Homo sapiens: one gene and its partner. The protein of the gene in region 1 interacts with the protein of each later gene in a pairwise test. Each region holds a gene or a part of one and is shown on either strand. Other genes may lie near its edges.

What was found.
Region 2: the proteins of PLD1 (region 1) and SYNC interact in binary tests that used the Homo sapiens proteins (3 or more experiments, as listed by UniProt).

Annotation. Positions count from the first base shown.
Region 1 is NC_000003.12:171,672,812-171,682,743, forward strand, and holds part of PLD1 (phospholipase D1), read right to left. Parts: intron 4,884-9,932; coding exon 4,755-4,883; intron 4,023-4,754; coding exon 3,904-4,022; intron 1,803-3,903; coding exon 1,689-1,802; intron 1-1,688. UniProt on the Homo sapiens protein: Function as phospholipase selective for phosphatidylcholine. Implicated as a critical step in numerous cellular pathways, including signal transduction, membrane trafficking, and the regulation of mitosis.
Region 2 is NC_000001.11:32,691,388-32,701,319, reverse strand, and holds part of SYNC (syncoilin), read left to right. Parts: intron 1-3,890; exon of another isoform or gene 3,891-3,984; intron 3,985-5,275; coding exon 5,276-6,455; intron 6,456-9,932.

The DNA of each region.
Region 1 (9,932 bases):
GATGCGGAAAAAGCGAACGAAGAGAAGCATTTTATAGAGTCTCTATTGACCTCACCAGGCAGCAGGATGAGACTATGTGAGTCAGGGCTTTACCAACAGTGAAGTGGAAAATATATGCATATGCAACGCTATGCTAAAACTTCCTTCATTGATTACAAAAATACTTAATTCCCAGCAATCCATTTTCAACAGATACTTATTAACATCAGCTAACTTTGAAAAATTGACCACCACGTCAATAATAATGCAAGTTCAAATCTTAAATTCTTATTTTCCTAATAACAAGTTTCTTATTTTATATTCTAGCATTGGTAATTTTTTCTCCTCTACGTAGAATAAAATTAAACAGGTTCATAAAATATTCATCAACTTACATATAAATCATAGCTATCTCTATGCCTCTGAGTTTAAATTAGTTTTCTTTTTAGCCTGGGATGACTAATATTTGCTGCCGATATTTCTCTCAAGCAGCTTATCTTTTTTTTTTTGAGATGGACTCTTACTCTGTCACCCAGGCTGGACTGCAGTGGTGTAGTCTCGGCTCACTGCAAACTCTGCCTCCTGGGTTTAAGCGATTCTCCTGCCTCAGCCTCCCGAGTAGCTAGGATTACAGGCGCACGCTACCACGCCCAGCTAATTTCTTATTTTTAGTAGAGACAGGGTTGGCCAGGCTGGTCTCGAACTCCTGACCTCAGGTGATCCACCCGCCTCGGCCTCCCAAAGTGCTAGGACTACAGGTGGGAGCCACCACACCTGGCCTTTTTTAAAAAAAGTTCTATTATTTGATCTACAGTCTGAAATGTCTTATTTCTTATATACACATACCTCCAATTGCACACGATGCAAAATAACTGATTTAGGCACTTCATTTATATAATCACATTCCCTAGGATCCATGTCTGCATTATATAAGTCCCTACTGATGGTCCCTACTGATGATATGTAGCAGTAGCAGACTGCTGGACTTTACTTAAACAATTCTTCTGATGCCCATATTGATGACTTCAAACAAAAGGCAATGCCAAAGGTGGCCCATCCTACTTCTGTCCCCACATGATCTCAAGATATTTGAGCTGTAGTTGGTAAAGGAAGCAGATTGGGTAACACTGGACCAGACTAGGATTTCAAGCTCCACCTCTGTTGATAACTAGCTGGCCGGCCCTAGATAGGCCTCAGAGCCCCACTAGGTCTGAATTTTCTTATTTGTAGTTTGAGATGGTTAAACTGGATGTGGTAAACTGTTGTGACTCTATTAAGCAAATTCCTTATTCCATTAAAAGGGCCTCTAGAAGACATTTGGTTAATCAGGAACTAAAATTAGACTGAACTACAACTAGCTTCCTAGCTGCTAAGTTTCAGCCACATTCCTGGTGCTTAGGCAGTATCAGGTCCAGGTTTACTGGGTATCATGTTGCTAGGGTCACTTCAGAAGGAATTACAGGAATAGCCTTGGCTGTGGCCTTTTCTAAGGACATGCATTTATTATATTTATAAGAGTTTTAAAAAGAGACTGAATTGAATCCATTTAACATAGGAAATATAATAACAAGTATTAAAAGATCCATTTAGTTTTGCTTTAGAAAAGCAGTCATTGAAAAATCTGAAGCCAATGTAATAGGCCCTTGGTCCAATAACAGTAATTTTACTCAGTAGCATTTTGTCAAAAAGAAAAGCCAGAACTTACTTACCTGTACGTTAGCATGGACAGACCCAGGCACTTGATATCTCAACTCATGGGCTGTTGTTTGAGACTTTGGAAGCAGAAAAGGATAAGAAAGGGACCGATATTTTGATTTCATAATCTAAAATAAAGAAAAAGGATAAAATATTCAAATGAGAAAAAAGATTCATTCTCCCTACTTTGTGATTATAAAAGAAATTCATGCCCAGGTGCAGTGGCTCACGCCTGTAATCCCAGCACTTTGGGAGGCCAAGAAGCGGGGATCACTTGAGGTCAGGAGTTCGAGATCAGCCTGGCCAACACGGTGAAACCCCCATCTCTACTAAAAATACAAAAATTAGCCAAGCATGGTGGCGGGCGCCTGTAATCCCAGCTACTCGGGAGGCTGAGGCAGGAGAATCACTTGAACCTCGGAGGCAGAGGTTGCAGTGAGTCGAGATTTCATCATTGCACTACAGCCTGGGTGACAAGAGTGAATCTCCATCTCAAAAAAAAAAAAAAAAAAAAGAAAAAGAAAAGAAAAGAAATTCAGGTTAATTTGAAAAAGAAAAAGAAAAATGTTAATGGTGGACATTTCTAAGTGAAGGGCTACAGATTATTTGTGTTTGTTTTCTACTTCTCACAGTCCTGTTTTTACCTTTTGTAGGGGAAATATTGTTTTATATTTGTAAAGACAGGTTAAATATAATCTGTAGTTACAGAACTTTATAATTGCAAAAATGAGACTATTGTTTTATAAACTAATTTTTTACTGATTATGTTCTAGATATCTTGTCACAGCAATATAGTGGGATATCATTATTTTTAATAACTTCATAGTAAAATGGTATAAAAGAATCATTTGTTTAATAAATTCCTATTAGTAAGGATTTCTGTTATTTCTAATTTTATTTGAATTATTAGAAGCCATATCAAAATAAATTACCTTATTGGATTATGGCTTTAGTTTGAATACCCGGAAATAGTTTTTCTGGATCAAAGATTGCATACTTTAAAAAAGACTTATTGGTGTTGTACAAATTTATCCTCCCTGGGGTAGCATGTATGAGCACACCACAAAAACCACCCCAAACCTAACTACAGGTATCAGCAGAGACTTTTATCTTTGCCAGTATAGCAGGTTAAAAGTAACACCCCATTTGTTTATTCATCCATCTCCCCTAAATTTTTGTTAAAAAATTTCAATTAGAATGTCCACTAAATTTTTATAATCATTATGTGAATGAAAAACAAAGTTAGACTCTAAGTGGTTGATAAAACTAAATTCTTTTTCCAAACGACCAAGGGGAATCATGACTCATTATCCCTTCAAGTAAATAAAGTGAAACTTTAATAACACCTGAATATGTACTTTTTTTTTTTTTTTTTGAGACAGAGTCTCGCTCTGTTGCCTAGGCTGGAGTACAATGGAGTCCTCTCAGCTCACTGCAAACTCCGCCTCCTGGATTCAAGTGATTTTCCTGCCTCAGCCTCCAGAGCAGTTGAGATTACAGGCACCCACCACCATGCCCAGCTAATTTTTGTATTTTAGTAGAGACAGGTTTTCACCATGTTGGTCAGGCTGGTCTCGAACTCCTGACCTCAGGTGATCCACCAGCCTAGGCCTCCCAAAGTGCCAGGATTACAGTCGTGGGCCACCGTGCCTGGCCTGAATGATACGTACTTAACTTATGAATGTTAGGTTTGAATGTTATGTCAAGTTCTTACAAGTAATGAGGACACAATCTGGATAAAAGGAAAATGGCCCCACCTTCTTAATACTTCTTGGTTTGCTCAGAACCAGCTCTCAGAATCCTGTACCAATATAAACCCAGTGCAATTCCAGTCCCATCCAACTGGATGGGACTTTAAAGCTCAAGCCCTCTCATCTAAACCAGGCTCCTATCCCCCTATAACAGCCCTGCAAATGACTACCGAGCCCAGGCTACTAAATGCTTAGTCAACACTGTGTCCAAGATGTTAACAAGGTTAAAATCAGGACCCACACAGCAGCACCTGTCCCTAGGCACTCTGAATTGTCTATGGTGTGGACATTCGGGAATGTTTCCCTTTTTTTTTGCCCAGATGCCCAGGCACCCGGACATCAATGCAGCCAACAGCAGAGCAGTGACACAGTTGTGGCCACAACAGTCTCTTCTTGCTACCAGCCTCCTCTAAACCTCTTCTCTAGTTAGGCCTGCCTCTCTTCATGTGGATAAATCATGATAGCAACATCCAAGTACTTTTGTGAAGTTCCAGCGCTGGATGAAGTGACGTGCCACATCACGAGCCGCCTTCCCGTGGACTGCAGAGGCAATGTCATGCCAGGGCATCCGGGGCGTGGAGTACCTGTCAATGAAATCTGCCCGGGTGCACCAGGCAAGGATCAGTCATTAACTTCAGTGTTGGGGCAAAGTCTCTCTGACTCCAACTATGAAACTAAAAGGAAACGTGGGTTAGTGCCCACTAGGTATATATTTCTTGGCTTGCATAGAACAACATTTTTATAATCAAGGGAAACAGATTTCACATTCAGGGACATAGTCTCCCAGGCACTTCCCCACATATGTTTCCGTTTCACTTAGGATTAGATAATCACTAGACATGGCAAGATGTGAGTTGGTACAAATTATCTAAGGCTGTGTATTTGATATTATATTTTTTATTTTTTATCCTGTTGAAACAATGGCAGGCAATGCCATCTCTATCTCCTCTTAAACATATAAACCCAGTGATAACCTGAAAATATGCCATTCTAACGCTGGAAATGCAGGAAATAAGCAGAATAGAAGATGATCAAAGGGAGCCTACCATTTCCTGAAAAATTACTGATTATTGCCCCCAAAATATGCCTATAAAAATCTGGATTTTTCAGACAGTTCAGCTCTATTTCATGTTCTTTTCTTATTATAACTGAAAAAAAAGTCCTTAAGCACATGCTAATGACTAAATCTAGTCTCCAAAGTTTTAAAAAATTTTCAAAAATCAACGGAAGCAAAACAAAAGGCATTTAGATCATGCACATGTATACTTGCTGAGATGTTCAAAGGTAAAAGACAAAATATAACCAGCACCCCACCATTATGATACTCACCAGCAAAAGGTTTATCAAGTTGAACCCAGTCTTTGAAGACGAAATTGCAGTAGTCCTTTCCATGCCAGAATCTGGTTTCCCCATGCAGCTCTCCCACACCTGTCTGTAAACTACGGATGGACCCGGTATCTGTGAATGCAGCAAGACCCCCTCAGAGACTGTGGTTCAGGTGAGTCCCAGAAAGGGAGGCTCAACTCTCATTTATTAAACACCTAAAAGCTTCTTAATTTCTTAAGACACAACTAGGGTGGCATCTGTCCATTCTATTACAGGCTGTGGGCTAACAAGGTTTTACAGTCCTTACAAGTTTACTTTTAGTGGGCAGTTAGGGCTACAACAAGATTCATCATTAAACAATGAAATTTGACCTTCTCAGGCAGTTGAGTAACTTATTTCCACCACCTACCAGATCACTGGAAGAACTATCACAGAATTAACTGTGAATAAAGAACTCACAAGGTGGCACTATGAGAGCAGTAAAGCTGGTGGGGGGCTTTCAGGGGCAGAGTGGGAAGGGCGGGGAGGGGAGAGGTGGAGAAACCTGAGACGCAGGGGCAATAAAGACACCATGCCACTTCTTTTTCCTCAACCAACATGGTGCACACCTGATGCATAATTCTTTTGCATTAAAGCAAGAACCTCAAATTTACAGATAGCCCATGTTCCAGCCCTGGAATTAATTAGCTAAGTGACACTGAGCTTCAGTTTTTTAGATCATAAATCCATTATGCGTAAAATGAAGAATTTGGCCTAGATAACAGCTAAAATCTGTTGCGCTTTAACATTTATATACTTCAAATCATAGATGGCATTTATAAAAAATATGGTAACAACAGATGAAAGCTTATGATATAGGTGCAAAAGCAGCAATCTACTATAGCATTTCACAAATAACTGTGCCGAGACCATTGACTTACGGCTAAATACAAAGACAATGAAGTAAAAAGATGCAGAATTACAAATCACAAACGCAGCACTTGGCACAAAAGAGGCATTTAACAAATAGACACTGAATGCAAAAATATGTGTTGAATGAATAAATGGTACTGCTTGCAGTAGCCAGTGAGAGGACTACACTGGTCCTGCCACCAACACACTGTCCCAGAACTGTCTTTGTAAAATGCACTCTTTGCTTAAAACCCTGGAAGGTTCACATACTGCCTATAGGAAGCTCAAGTCCTAAGGGCTTAGTGTGCATAGAAGACTCTTCCCAAACTGGTGCCAATCTATCTTTCTAGTCCTTGTTTTTCCCCACCCAACCCCAGGCCCCATGCAAATCACGTGTTTCACTGTATTATAACAGGTGTGGACTGCCATGTCTCCATGCAGTTGGCACATTATTACTTCTACCTGAAATGCTCCTTTCTCCCTCTTGGCCTGATATCCTAATCATCCTTCAAGAGCCACATTAGCTATCACCTGCCATCTCCCCATAAGGAAGAGGCAGTCACTAGCACTGCTGTCATCCCACTAACAACTGCCCCAACACCTCTGACTCTGTGACGCAATTGTATCAGGATGCTCCCCTGCCCGCATCAATGCCTCACCAGTCTATAAACTCTTTGGGAGTGGGAACCAAATCTTCTCACTGCCAGTAGCTCCAAGCACCCAGGCAATCAATAAATATTTGCAGAACAAATGTTTTTATGTAATCACCACACACAATGCTAATATTCTATCTCAAACTGAATCATTAACCTTTCAAAGGCTATTAAAGTTTTCTACAGAAGAAAAATGATTTAAAATGCCATAGATTAGCAAAATGAAATCATGTTAAAAATAGACTTCTATTGACTTCTCCCAGTGATTTATTTTCCTGCTTTATGAGACTGAAAGGCCAAAGTACGGGTAGGTCTGTTTGCTCATCTATAGGCTCTTTATTGTTTACATAGCACTTTGTTAAAAGAAGAAAAGAGGGTGAGAAAAGAAACAAAAGGGATGAAAAATGAGATAAACAATATTTCAAATTTCAAATATAAAATACACATATACAATTTGCTTTCATCAACTGCAAAACTCTAAGCTAAGGCTTTACATAAACACATATACACTCATTTAAAAATTATCTTTCACCTAACAACCAGTTATGATAAGGAAAATAAAGGAAATTCTTAGTCTCAGGAAATTATCTTGGTACTAATTGAATTCAACCTGCTCATAATTCAAATTTGTTTTTGTTTTTAGCCATGGCCTAAAAACTATTCCACATAAATTAGGGTTCCTCCTCAGTACAAATGAACTATTAAGGCAATAGAGCCAAATACTAGTTCCTGTGAAAACAGTAGCTCAGAATTACATGAGTGTGGTCGAGAGGACTTATGGCATCAACAATGCTGATCCAAGGGGGTCTCGTTAGGCTGCTATCTGGCTCCCAAATGATTTCATAATTGCACCTGCCTTGTCTTTTGGCACAGATTTGTCAGGCCAATTTTCTGCATCCTCCTCTGTCAGTGGCTCAGATTCTGGCTACTAAAGTTTATGAGAAGGGGGACTTCTTGTTCCTTGCCTGGTGTCCTCTGGTCGTGCCACATCCTCCTCCTTCTATTCTCATCTCTCGGCTTCCAGGTCTCCATTTTTCTACCATTTCTCCAGCCTATCCTTGTTCTTCTTTCCTAGCTCCTCCTCACTAACAAGGTTTCCCCCTTTCTCCTGTCTTTTTGTTTTCTTTTTCTTCCTCTTTTTTTTTTTTTTTTTTTTTTTTTTGAGACTGGAGTGCAGTGGCACGATCTCGGCTCACTGCAACCTCTGCCTCCCAGGGCCAAGTGTTCAAGCAATTCTCCTGCCTCAGCCTCCCGAGTAGCTGGGATTACAGGCGCACACCACCATGCCCTGCTAATTTTTGTATTTGATAGTAGAGACAGGGTTTCACCATGTTGGCCAGGCTCATCTCGAACTCCTGACCTCGTGATCTGCCTGCCTCGGCCTCCCAAAGTGCTGGGATTACAGGCGTGAGCCACCACACCCGGCCTCTCCTGTCTTTTTCTATACAATTTCTAAAATGTGCACCTGCAAGGATGGCTTCTGTTTTGGACTCCAAATCTAAGGTCACTTCCAGTGCCTCACTTGACATTGTTTACCTAGTTCCCTCCAGAACTTTAAAATTATGTCTAACACTAAAATCATCATCATTCCATAAAATCAAGTCTTTCCTTGAGATTTCTGCTGTCTGTGTGTAGTAACTCAAGCTCAAACCTCGGAATCACCTTTGGCTCCTTTATTCTTCGCTGACTTCTCCACCCACCTCCCCACGGCTTCCCAGATCATGATGAAAATCTGCTGATTCTGCTTTTGGAAAAAGTTTCTCCCATTTACTTCGTTCTTGAACTCACTGACACAACCTTGTCAGACTCCCTGTGTCTCTACTATAAACGCTATAAAGCCTCACCCTTAATTGCTCCCTGCCCCTAGGGATTTTCCAACATTTAATGGAAGAGGTGCAATGTCTCAGTCTGATTTTCAAAGTCCTCCGTAAACTGCTACAGATATATCCCACCAGCTCAATCTGCACAAATCAGCCCTTAACCACAATTCCAAAACTCCAAAAGTTCTAACAATTCAAATGTTTTTTCATAGCTGATTTTCACAGCTCATTTCATAACTCACAGGTCAGCAAAATCTGACCTGAACTGACAAGAGGTTATTTATTATCTTTATTGATCCCACTTGGTGTTGCACAAACATAAATGGTTTGCCTACATTCCAGGTATTTCCTGGATCCTGCTGGGAGTGTAATATAGTAGAGGGTATAGGTATTGTATTACCTTTCTAAAATCCAGAACTTTCTGATTTCTGAAATCTGATTCCAAGGATTTTGTATGAGAGATTATAGACCTATATGTATTTACCACATTCTACACTCAGTCTGAGATGCCGAAATAAATACTTTTGCATTTCCTATATCTGGGTCTTAAGATGTAGTATCTACCTAAAATGCCTGTTTTTCTACCTTTTTAGTCTCTACCTACCGAATTTCTACATATGTTCAAGGCCAGTTCCAATACAGGCACTGAACAAGTTATATTTTAAAAAATATTTTGGTTTTCAAAATTTTTTGGAATTTAGAATCGTGGTTAAGGGTTTGTAGACCTGTATTTCGTCTGTGGATCAATGATGACTCTTGCAGTAGGAGTATCTTCCCTCAATGAATTACTAAAATATTAGGTTTGTAAAATATTTAAAACTCATGCTCACCTATTAGATAACAAGCTATTTAACAGCACTAGATGAATCTTACACATCCTATCCATTGCATTCCTAAGAACAGTTTAGAAACAGCTTAATATTATCCCTTGTGACGAGACATTCAAATTTGAAAAGCCTGTCTCAACTAAATTGCAAAAATAATTTTTCCCTCACTTACCTATTTAATATTGCTTAAAAGGAAAAGATCAGCACATAGTTGCTGAATAGCATTAGGAGAAACACTTAATGTAGATGACAGGTTGATGGGTGCAGCAAACCACTGTGGCACTTGTATACCTATGTAACAAACCTGCATGTTCTGCACGTGTATCCCAGAACTTAAAGTATAATACAGAAAGAAAAAGAAAGAAAGAAAGAAAGAAAGAAAGAAAGAAAGAAAGAAAGAAAGAAAGAAAGAAAAAGAAAGAAAGAAAGAAAGAAAGGGAATAAAATTCAACACTTTAAAAATAGTATCAAGCAAAATTCTCCCTCTTAGAACATAATTCTGAATGAAAAAAAATCTTGAAAATGACTGAGTGATTTTGAAAAACATATATTTCAGATATGATTCCTAACCACGTTTTTAGTGCAGTTTTTCTATATAAAAACCCATAGTGATGTTCACTCCACACTGATTTCTGTATGACACCAGGAGGTTTAATTCAACAAGGAGCCCAATTCAACATGGTCATATGCGGTCAAGTGAAATTGATATTGCAGAGAGGCTAACTCTCTTTGCATTCTCAGGAAAAGGAAGTCATTAACTCAAGTTCATATTCAGTTTTAAATTTCTAACGAAGAGTCACTCCATGCTTAATTTGGGTTTCAAGTTTTATAAGGCAACCTGAGTTTTTAAGGTATTACATGATTTAAATCTAGAGCCTTGCTCTTTAAACTTCCTTCATTTTTTTAGTAGAACTTTTCTTTTTTGAAAACAAGTTCAGAAGGAACTCCAATAATTAAAACAGATACAAGTGGGATTGTTCTGGTTGAAGA
Region 2 (9,932 bases), on another chromosome or scaffold:
GAACACACATGGGGCTGTCTGGGAGATACTTTACGGAAGAGATGAAGTTTGAGCAGGGCTTGAAGGATGAGTAGAAATTTGTTAGATAGATAGAAGTATATTGTGGGCCCGGCGCGGTGGCTCACGCCTGTAATCCCAGCACTTTGGGACGCCGAGGTGTGCGGATCACCTGAGGTCAGGAGTTCAAGACCAGCCCGGCCAACATGGTGAAACCCGGCTCTACTAAAAATACAAAAATTAGCCAGGCGTGGTGGCGTGTGCCTGTAATCCCAGTTACTTGGGAGGCTGAGACAGGAGACTTGCTTGAACCCAGGAGGCAGAGGCTGCAGTGAGCGGAGATTACACCATTGCACTCCAGCCTGGGCAACAAGAGTGAAACTCCATCTCAAAAAAAAAAAAAGTATATTGTGACTGCTGCATGCCAGGCTTTTTATATGTGCTGTAGTTACCTCTTTTGGACCTCACGCCTATCCTAGGAGGGTGGTAAATACTGCAGGCCTTCTCCAGCCTCCACCACTTACAACAGTTGTGGAACCTTGTGTGAGTTCTTACTCTGTGCATTGGCTTCCTCATCTATAAAATGGAGATAATAGATGAAGATTCTTTCTTTCTTTCTTTTTTTGAGACAGAGTCTTGCTCTTGTTGCTCAGGCTGGAGGGCAATGGCGCAATCTCAGTTCACTGCAACCTCTGTCTCCCAGGTTCAAGCAATCCTCCTGCTTCAGCCTCCTGAGTAGCTAGGATTACAGGCACACACCACCATACCCAGCTAATCGTTTGTATTTTTAGTAGAGACGGAGTTTCACCATGTTGGCCAGGCTGGTCTCAAACTCCTGACCTCAGGTGATCCACCCGCCTCGGCCTCCCAAAGTGCTGGGATTACAGGCGTGAGCCACTGCACCCAGCCAATAGATGATGAGGATTCTATAAATGAGTATTCATGTAAAATGCCTAGAATAATCTTGAACACGGTGAAGTCATTCCAAGGTGGGCGGCTCGGCACGAGAATGATGAAAGGGCCGTCTGCTGGGAAAGCAGGGACTGTTGAATATCAGAGTGAGTTTGGCTGGCTGAGCAGGTGCATCCTTCCTGGCCCTGGCTCTAGGAGCTCTGCCTTCCCAGGTAGTACAGGGTTCTCTAGTTAGGTGGTTTTTGAGAAGCTGCAATTCTCAGCTGGACACCGTGGGCTTAGAGTAGGAGGTGTAAAAAGTTAATGCAAGCTCTAGGATGTCAAGCATTGGGTGGGTTGCAGGAATAATGTGAGAGGAAGCTAAAAAAGGTATGTTTGGGGCCGGGTGTGGTGGCTTATGCCTGTAATCCCAGCACTTTGGGAGGCCGAGGCAGGCGGATCATGAGGTCAGGAGTTCGAGACCAGCCTGACCAAGATGGTGAAACCCTGTCTCTTCTAAAAATACAAAAAATTAGCCAGGCATGGTGGTGGGCGCCTGTAGTCTCAGCTACTCGGGAGGCTGAGGTAGAGAATTGCTTGAAACCAGGAGCCGGAGGTTGCAGTGAGCCGAGATTGCACCACTGCACTCCAGCCTGGGCAACAGAGCGAGACTCTGGCTCAAAAAAAGAAAAAAAAAAAAAAAGGTATGTTTGGGCCACATCTTTAAGGACCTTGAAACCATGCGTAGCAATTTGGGTATTTATTGGTGAAGTGGAGCAATAGTTCACTCTGTGTTGTAGCAAGTTAACTGTGGTGGTGTAGAGAATAGATTGAGGTGAGGAGAGGAGGAAGTCCTTTTAGAAGACCAGGACAAAAGTGCCAGTGAGACAGGATGTCTTGGAGTAGGGCCCTGATAGTGGGATGCAGAAGAGGGGGATGGAGACTGTAGTCTTTCTAAGATAGAAAGGTCACTTTTTGGCCAGGCGCAGTGACTCGTGCCTGTAATCCCAGCACTTTGGGAGGCCATGATCCCTGGTGGATCACGAGGTCAGGAGATTGAGACCATCCTGGCCAACATGGTGAAACCCTGTCTCTACTAAATACACAAAAATTAGCCAGGCGTGGTGGCAGGCACCTATAGTCTCAGCTACTCAGGAGGCTGAGGCAGGAGAATCACTTGAACCCAGGAGGAGGAGGTTGCAGTGAGCTGAGACCACGCCACTGCACTCCAGCCTGGGCGACAGAGTGAAGCTCCATCTCAAAAAAAAAAAAAAAAAAGAAAAGAAAAGTCACTTCTCAGTGAACTGGCTATACAGGGGAGGGAAAGAGCTGTCTGAAGATTTCTTGCCTGTGGCCGGATGTGGTGGCTCATGCCTGTAATCCCAGCACTTTGGGAGGTCTAGGTAGGAGGATCGCTTGAGCTCAGGAGTTTGAGACCAGCCTGAGCAACATAGTGAGACTTCATCTCTACAAAAAGTTAAAAAATTAGCGGGTGTGGCGCTACGTGCCTGTAGTCCTGGCTACCCGGGAGGCTGAGGCAGGAGGATGGCTTGAGCCGGGGAGGTTGAGGCTGCAGTGAGCTATGATCATGCCACAGTACTCAGGCCTGGGCGACAGAGGGAGACTCCATCTCAAAAAAAAAAAAAAAGACAAAAACAAAAAAACAGAAACAGGAAAGACCAAAGCTATTTGCATTTGAGGGGCAAAGCAGCAAGAGAACACTCCCCAGTGGGAACTGACTGAGCTGGCAGGCAATAGGCAGCTGGGTCAAAGAGCTCAGATGTCAGAATGATGGAATCTGACTTCAAGAGCGTTTGACAGGATAGAAGGGTGGGCCAGTTCTAACAAGATGAACTTTTACAGAAACAAGAAATGTTGCTTACAAGCACTTGGTATGAAAAACTTTTTTTTTTGATACAGAGTTTGGTTTTGTTGCCCAGGCTGGAGTGCGGTGGCGCAATCTGGGCTCACTGCAAGCTCCGCTTCCCAGGTTCACACCATTCTCCTGCCTCAGCCTCCCGAGTAGCTGGGACTACAGGTGCCCGCCACCACGCCTGGCTAATTTTTTTGTACTTTTAGTAGAGACGGGGTTTCACTGTGTTAGCCAGTATGGTCTCGATCTCCTGACCTCATGATCCGCCTGCCTCAGCCTCCCAAAGTGCTGGGATTACAGGCGTGAGCCACCACGCCCGGCATTTTTTTTTTTTTTTTTTTTTTGAGATGGAGTCCCGGTCTGTCGCCCAGGCTGTGGTGTGATCTCGGCTCACTGCAACCTCTGCCTCCCAGGTTCAAGCGATTCTTGTGCCTTAGCCTCCCGAGTAGCTGAGATTACAGGCATGCACCATCATGCCCTGCTAAGTTTTGTATTTTTAGTAGAGACGGGGTTTCACCATGTTGGCTAGGCTGATCTCGAACTCCTGAGCTCAGGTGATCCACCCGTCTTGGCCTCCCAAAGTGCTGGCATTACAGGCGTGAGCCATCTCGCCCAGCCCTGGGGCACTGTTTTTGATACCCATCCCAATTTCTAGCTCTTGGGGAACTTAAGAATAAAGGCAAATTAAAAAAAAATCCTCAAAAGAGTGACAGTCTGAAAGCTGTCATTTGTGTCACAAGGATATGACACAAATGAAGAGGGCACTGGAAACCTGGACATGTATGGAATAACAAAGATAAGCTGGGTTTTTTTTGTTTTTTTTTTTGACAGGGTCTCTGTTGCCCAGGCTGGGGTGCAGAGTGGTGCAGTCATGGCTCAGCACAGCCTCGACCTCCCAGGCTCAGGTGATTCTCCCACCACAGCCTCCCAAGTATCTGGGACTACAGGTGTACACCATCATGCCCAGCTAATTTTTTGTATTTTTTTGTAGAGATGGGGTTTCGCCATGTTGCCCACGCTGGCCTTAAACTCCTGGACTCAAGAGGTCTTGGCCTCCCAAAGTGCTGGATTACAGACATGAGCCACCGCACTTGACCACGGTTATCTTTTTTTTTTTTTTGAGACGGAGTTTCGCTGTTGTTGCCCAGGCTGGAGTGCAATGGTGCAATCTCGTCTCACTGCAACCTCTGCCTCTTTGAAGTTCAAGAGATTCTCCTGCCTCAGTGAGTATCTGGGATTACAGGCATGCACCACCACGCCCGGCTAATTTTGTATTTTTAGTAGAGATGGGGTTTCTCCATGTTGGTCAGGCTGGTCTTGAACTCCCGACCTCAGGTGATCCGCCTGATTCGGCCTCCCAAAGTGCTGAGATTACAGGTGTGAGCCACCACGCCTGGCCGACCATGGTTCTCTTTAAGTGTTTAGATAACTTACACAGAAAAGAAGGTAGAAATATCTGATCCTAGAAGGAAGAATCAGGTAAATCCAGTGGCTAAAAGTTACCAGGAATTGCTGGGCATGGTGGCTCAATGCCTGTAATCCCAACACTTTGGGAGGCTGAAGAGGGCGGATCACTTGAGGTCAGGAGTTTGAGACCAGCCTGGCCAACATGGTAAAACCCCATCTCTACTAAAAATACAAAAATCAGCTGAGTGTGATGGCACGTGTCTGTAGTCCCACCTACCTGGGAGGTGGAGGCTGAAATGGCACCACTGCACTCCAGCCTGGGTGACAGAGCAAGACTCCATCTCAAAGAAAAAAAAAAGTTATAAGGAAGGTTTTACCTCAACATTATAATTTTATTAGAACTGGGCTGGGCGCAGTGGCTCATGCCTATAATCCCAGCACTTTGGGAGGCCGAGGCGGGCAGATCATGAGGTCAGGAGTTTGAGAACAGCCTGACTAACATGGTGAAACCCCATCTCCACTAAAAATACAAAAATTAGCCGGGCGTGGTGGTATGTGTGCCTATAATCCCAGCTGCTCAGGAGGCTGAGGCAGGAGAATCACTTGAACCTGGGAGGTGGAGGCTGCAGTGAGCCAAGATCGCACCACTGCATTCCAGCCTGGCAACAGAGCAAGACTCCGTCTCAAAAAAAAAAGGCGTGGTGGTGCTACTTGGGAGGCTGAGGCAAGAGAATCGCATGAACTGGGGGACAGAGGTTGCAGTGAGCCGACATCACGCTATTGCACTCCAGCCTCGGCAATACAGCGGGACTCCATCTCAAAAAAAAAAAATTATTATAATTGTGGAACAAACAGTGGTGCCTCAGGTATGTCGAGTCCTTGGAGCTGCATAAGCAGAGACCATATGGTGATGTCGCTGGGATGCTGGCAGGGGATCTACACCGTGGTTGGGTGTGTGGAGGGGTGGATTGACAGAGTGGAGGGAGCAGACGAATGGCTGCTGACATCTAAGAACCTGAGGTAGTCTAGGCCCATGGCTGCTGGCTCCAGAATTGCACCATCCTGGGATTGTGGCTGCCCTTTCACTTTCAATCATTTCTTTTGCAGGAAAACAAGAGTAGAGGCCAATTCTCCTCTTCCAAAGAACTCTGGATCCCTAAATGAGGCAGAAGCCTTGAACCCAGAAGTTACTCTATCTTCAGAGGGGTCCTTAAACCTCGAAGACATTCTCTACCTGGAGGACACAGGTGACCTTGATGAGACACTCTATGTGCAAGAGACTGAGAAGGCAGAGGAGGCCCTGTATATTGAGGAGGCCATGCAGCCAGATGAGGCTCTGCATGTGGAGGAGCCTGGGAATCCAGAGGAGACAGTGTGTGTGGAGGAAACCACGGAGCCAGATCGGATACAGTTTGTGGAGGGGCCCGTGGAGCCAGGAAAGCCCACAAGCCCAGAGCACGTTGTTTATGAGGGAGAGACAGTCACAAGGGCGGAGAAATCTAACCCTGAGGAGAGCCTCAGAGCCGAGCAGAGCCCCAGCATGGAGGAGAACCTGAGCATAGAGGACCTGGAATTGCTAGAGGGGCGTTTCCAGCAGTGTGTCCAAGCTGTGGCCCAGCTGGAAGAGGAGAGGGATCAGCTCATCCATGAGCTTGTATTGCTCCGGGAACCAGCCCTGCAGGAGGTACAGCAAGTCCATCAAGACATCCTGGCTGCCTACAAGCTCCATGCCCAAGCAGAGCTGGAGAGAGATGGCCTAAGGGAGGAGATCCGGCTGGTCAAGCAGAAGCTTTTCAAAGTGACAAAGGAATGTGTGGCCTACCAATACCAGCTGGAGTGCCGCCAGCAGGACGTGGCTCAGTTTGCCGATTTCCGGGAAGTGCTGACTACAAGGGCAACCCAGCTCTCAGAGGAACTGGCCCAGCTCCGGGATGCCTATCAGAAGCAGAAGGAGCAGCTGCGGCAACAACTAGAAGCCCCTCCAAGCCAGAGGGATGGGCACTTTCTCCAGGAAAGCCGGCGACTCTCTGCCCAGTTTGAAAATCTCATGGCAGAGAGCCGCCAGGACCTGGAGGAGGAGTATGAGCCTCAGTTCCTGCGGCTCCTAGAGAGGAAAGAAGCTGGGACCAAAGCTCTGCAGAGAACCCAGGCTGAGATCCAGGAAATGAAGGAGGCTCTGAGACCCCTGCAAGCAGAGGCCCGGCAGCTCCGCCTGCAAAACAGGAACCTGGAGGACCAGATCGCACTTGTGAGGCAAAAACGAGATGAAGAGGTGCAGCAGTACAGGGTAGGCCCATTGGGCATGAAAAGAACTGAGGTCTTTTAACCTGGGGAAAGAGTGGCCAGAGTCCAAGGTCTTTGGGGCTGAAAGATAGTGTCACATGTAGGAAGAAAAATTTGTTCTTTGGGGCCACGCAATTTTTTCTCCATTCTTCATTCATTCAGGCCCATGCTAGGGACTAGAAGTTATCTGCACTGTTTTTTGTTTTTTTTTTTTTGAGATGGAGTCTCGCTCTGTCGCCCAGGCTAGAGTGCAGTGGTGCGATCTCAGCTCACTACAAGCTCTGCCTCCTGGGTTCATGCCATTCTCCTGCCTCAGCCTTCTGAGTAGCTGGGACTACAGGTGCTCACCACCATGCCCGGCTATTTTTTTGTATTTTTAGTAGAGTCGGGGTTTCACTGTTGTTAACCAGGATGGTCTGGATCTCCTGACCTCGTGATCCGCCTGCCTTGGCCTCCCAAAGTGCTGGGATTACAGGTGTGAGCCACCGCGCCCGGCCTGCACTCTGTTTTTTTTGCGACAGGGTCTTGCTGTCACTTAGGCTGGTGCAGTGGCATGATCACAGCTAACTGCAGCCTCGACCTCTCAGGTTCAAGCGATCCTCCCACCTCAGCCTCTTGAGTAGCTGGGACCACAACTGTGCACCAACATGCCCAGCTAATTTTTTCTTTTTTGAGACAGGTGCAATCTTGAGGGCTCACTGCACCTCAAACCTCTTGGGCTCAAGCGATCCTCCTGCCTTAGCCCCCAAGCAGCTGGGACTACAAGTGTGTGCCACCATACCTGGCTAATTTTTTGTAGAGACAGGGTTTCACCACGTGGCCCAGGCTGGATTTGAACTCCTGAGCTCAAGCTATCCGCCTGCCTTGGCCTCCCAAAGAGCTAGGATTATAGGTGTGAGCCACCGCAGCCGGCCAATTTTTGTATTTTTTGTAGACAGGGTTTTGCCATGTTGCCCAGGCTGGTCTTGAAATCCTGGGCTCAAGTACTTTTAATGGCAAAAGCTGCAATTAATTTTGCACCAACCTTAATAGAATCCTCTCATCTTCACTTTCCTTTTATGTGCATTTGTCCCCATCTCTCTTGCATTCAAGTTATTTCTGATTAAGTGTGAGCCAGTTCTAATCCCTTTTTAGAACAGAGTGGGATATAAATACTAAGTGAATAAACAATTACGTAGTCCCTCCTAGACTGTGAACTTTCAGAAGGTAGGGAATACATTTTACTTATTGTTGTATTACTCTCTGCTACTCAAGGCTCAGAGCACATGTGCTGCTGGGCACTAATGAGAAGACTGTAGTGTGGTGCTCTAAGCAGTACTTTAATCTTTTGAAACACTGATTCCTTTGGATAAACTTAGAAATCTATGTCTTCCCAGAGATTGTGATATGCCCTTAAGGGAACAAGTTTCCCTGTTGAAATGGCTGCATTCACTTCACTGAAGATTTTGTCAAGCTTTCTGTAGTTTGTATTATGAAAACACTCTGTCTGGGAGCGGTGGCTCACGCCTGTAATCCCAGCACTTTGGTTGGGAGGCTGAGGTGGGTGGATCACAAGGTCAGTAGTTTGAGACAAGTATAGCCAATATGGTGAAACCCCGTCTCTACTAAAAAGACAAAAATTAGGGGGGCATGGTGGCACATGCCTGTAGTCCCAGCTACTTGGGAGGCTGAGGCAGGAGAATCGCTTGAACCCGGGAGGCGGAGGTTGCAGTGAGCTGAGATTGCACCACTGCACTCTAGCCTGGGTGACAGAGTGAGACTCCATCTCAAAAACAAACAAAAACAAACAAACAAAAAAAAAACACTGTGGTTTTTGGGGTCATAATACTGAATGTTTTTTATTTTTATCTTTATTTATTTATTTTTGAGACAGAGTCTTGCTCTTTCACCCAGGCTGGAGTGCACTGAACCAATCTCGGCTCACTGCAAACTCCACCTCCCGGGTTCAAGCAATTCTCATTTCAGCCTCCTGAGTTGCTGGGACTACAGGTGCCCGCCACTGCACCCAGCTAATTTTTTGTATTTTAGTAGAGATGGGGTTTCACCATGTTGCCCAGGGTGGTCTCAAACTCCTGAGCTTAGGCAGTCCACCCGCCTCAGCCTCCCAGTTATTTTTACAGAGTCTCGCTCTGTCACACAGGCTGGAGTGCAGTGGAGTGCAGTGGCATGATCTCAGCTCACTGCAACCTCTGCCTCCTGGGTTCAAGCAATCCTCCTGCCTCAGTCTCCCAAGTTGCTGGGATTGCAGACCTGTGCCACCATGCCCAGCTAATTTGGGTATTTTAGTAGAGATGGGGTTTCACCATGTTGGTCAGGCTGGTCTCGAACACCTGACCTCAGGTGATCCACCGGCCTCAGCCTCCCAGTGTTGGGATTACAGGCGTAAGCCACCACACCCAGAAGTAATACTGAATGTTTTTAAACTCTTCATATTCCCCTTACCCTATTTTTTAAAAAATTGGTTCACAGTCTAGTGAAAAGTCATTTATTTAGCATCAATACTATCCTTAACAGCCAATACTCAGACAGACATTACATTAATAGTTGTATCTCAGAGAAGAAAGTAATAGGTGATTTATGAGAGGTGCAGGTAAAAGGGCTGTGGGATAGATGATGATGATGATGATGATTATTATTTTTTGAGACGGAGTCTGTCACTCTTGCCCAGGCTGGAGTGCAGTGGCGCTCAGCTCACTGCAAGCTCTGCCTCCCGGGTTCGCGCCATTGTCCTGCCTCAGCCTCCCGAGTAGCTGGGATTGCAGGCGCCCGCCACCGCACCAGGCTAATTTTTTGCATTTTTAATAGAGACGGGGTTTCACCGTGTTAGCCAGGATGGTCTCCATCTCCTGATCTTGTGATCCGCCCGCCTCGCCTCTCAAAGTGCTGGGATTACAGGCATGAGCCACTGCGCCCGGCCGGGATAGATTATTTTTAGGCGCTGGTTAAATCAGAGAACTCTTCATGAAAAAAGAGGTGGAATTTGAGCTAGGTATGAAAGCATAGGGAGAATCTAGACCAGTGCTGCCCAACAGAAATATAATGCAAGTCACATAAATAATTACAAATTTTCTAATAGCCACATTAAAATAGGCAAAAATTCAGCTGAGCTAAGCCTGAGGGGAGCAGGGGAGAAAAGATATAGGTAAAATTAATTTAAATATATTTTATCTAACTCAACATATCTGAAATATAATTAGTAACTTGGCTGCAGGTGACAAGCTTGAGTTTTGGACTTTATTCAGTAGTCTGCTGCATCATTAAAGGGATTTAATCAGGGAAGTAACATGATTGCCTTGCTACTTTTTTTTTTTTTTCTGAGATGGAGTCTCCCTCTGTCACCCATGCTGGAGTGCAGTGGCACGATCTCGCCTTGCTGCAACCTCCACTTCCCAGGTTCAAGCAATTTTCCTGCCTCAGCCTCCCAAGTAGCTGGGATTACAGGCGCCTAACACCATGGACGTGGCTAATTTTTTTTTAGTCG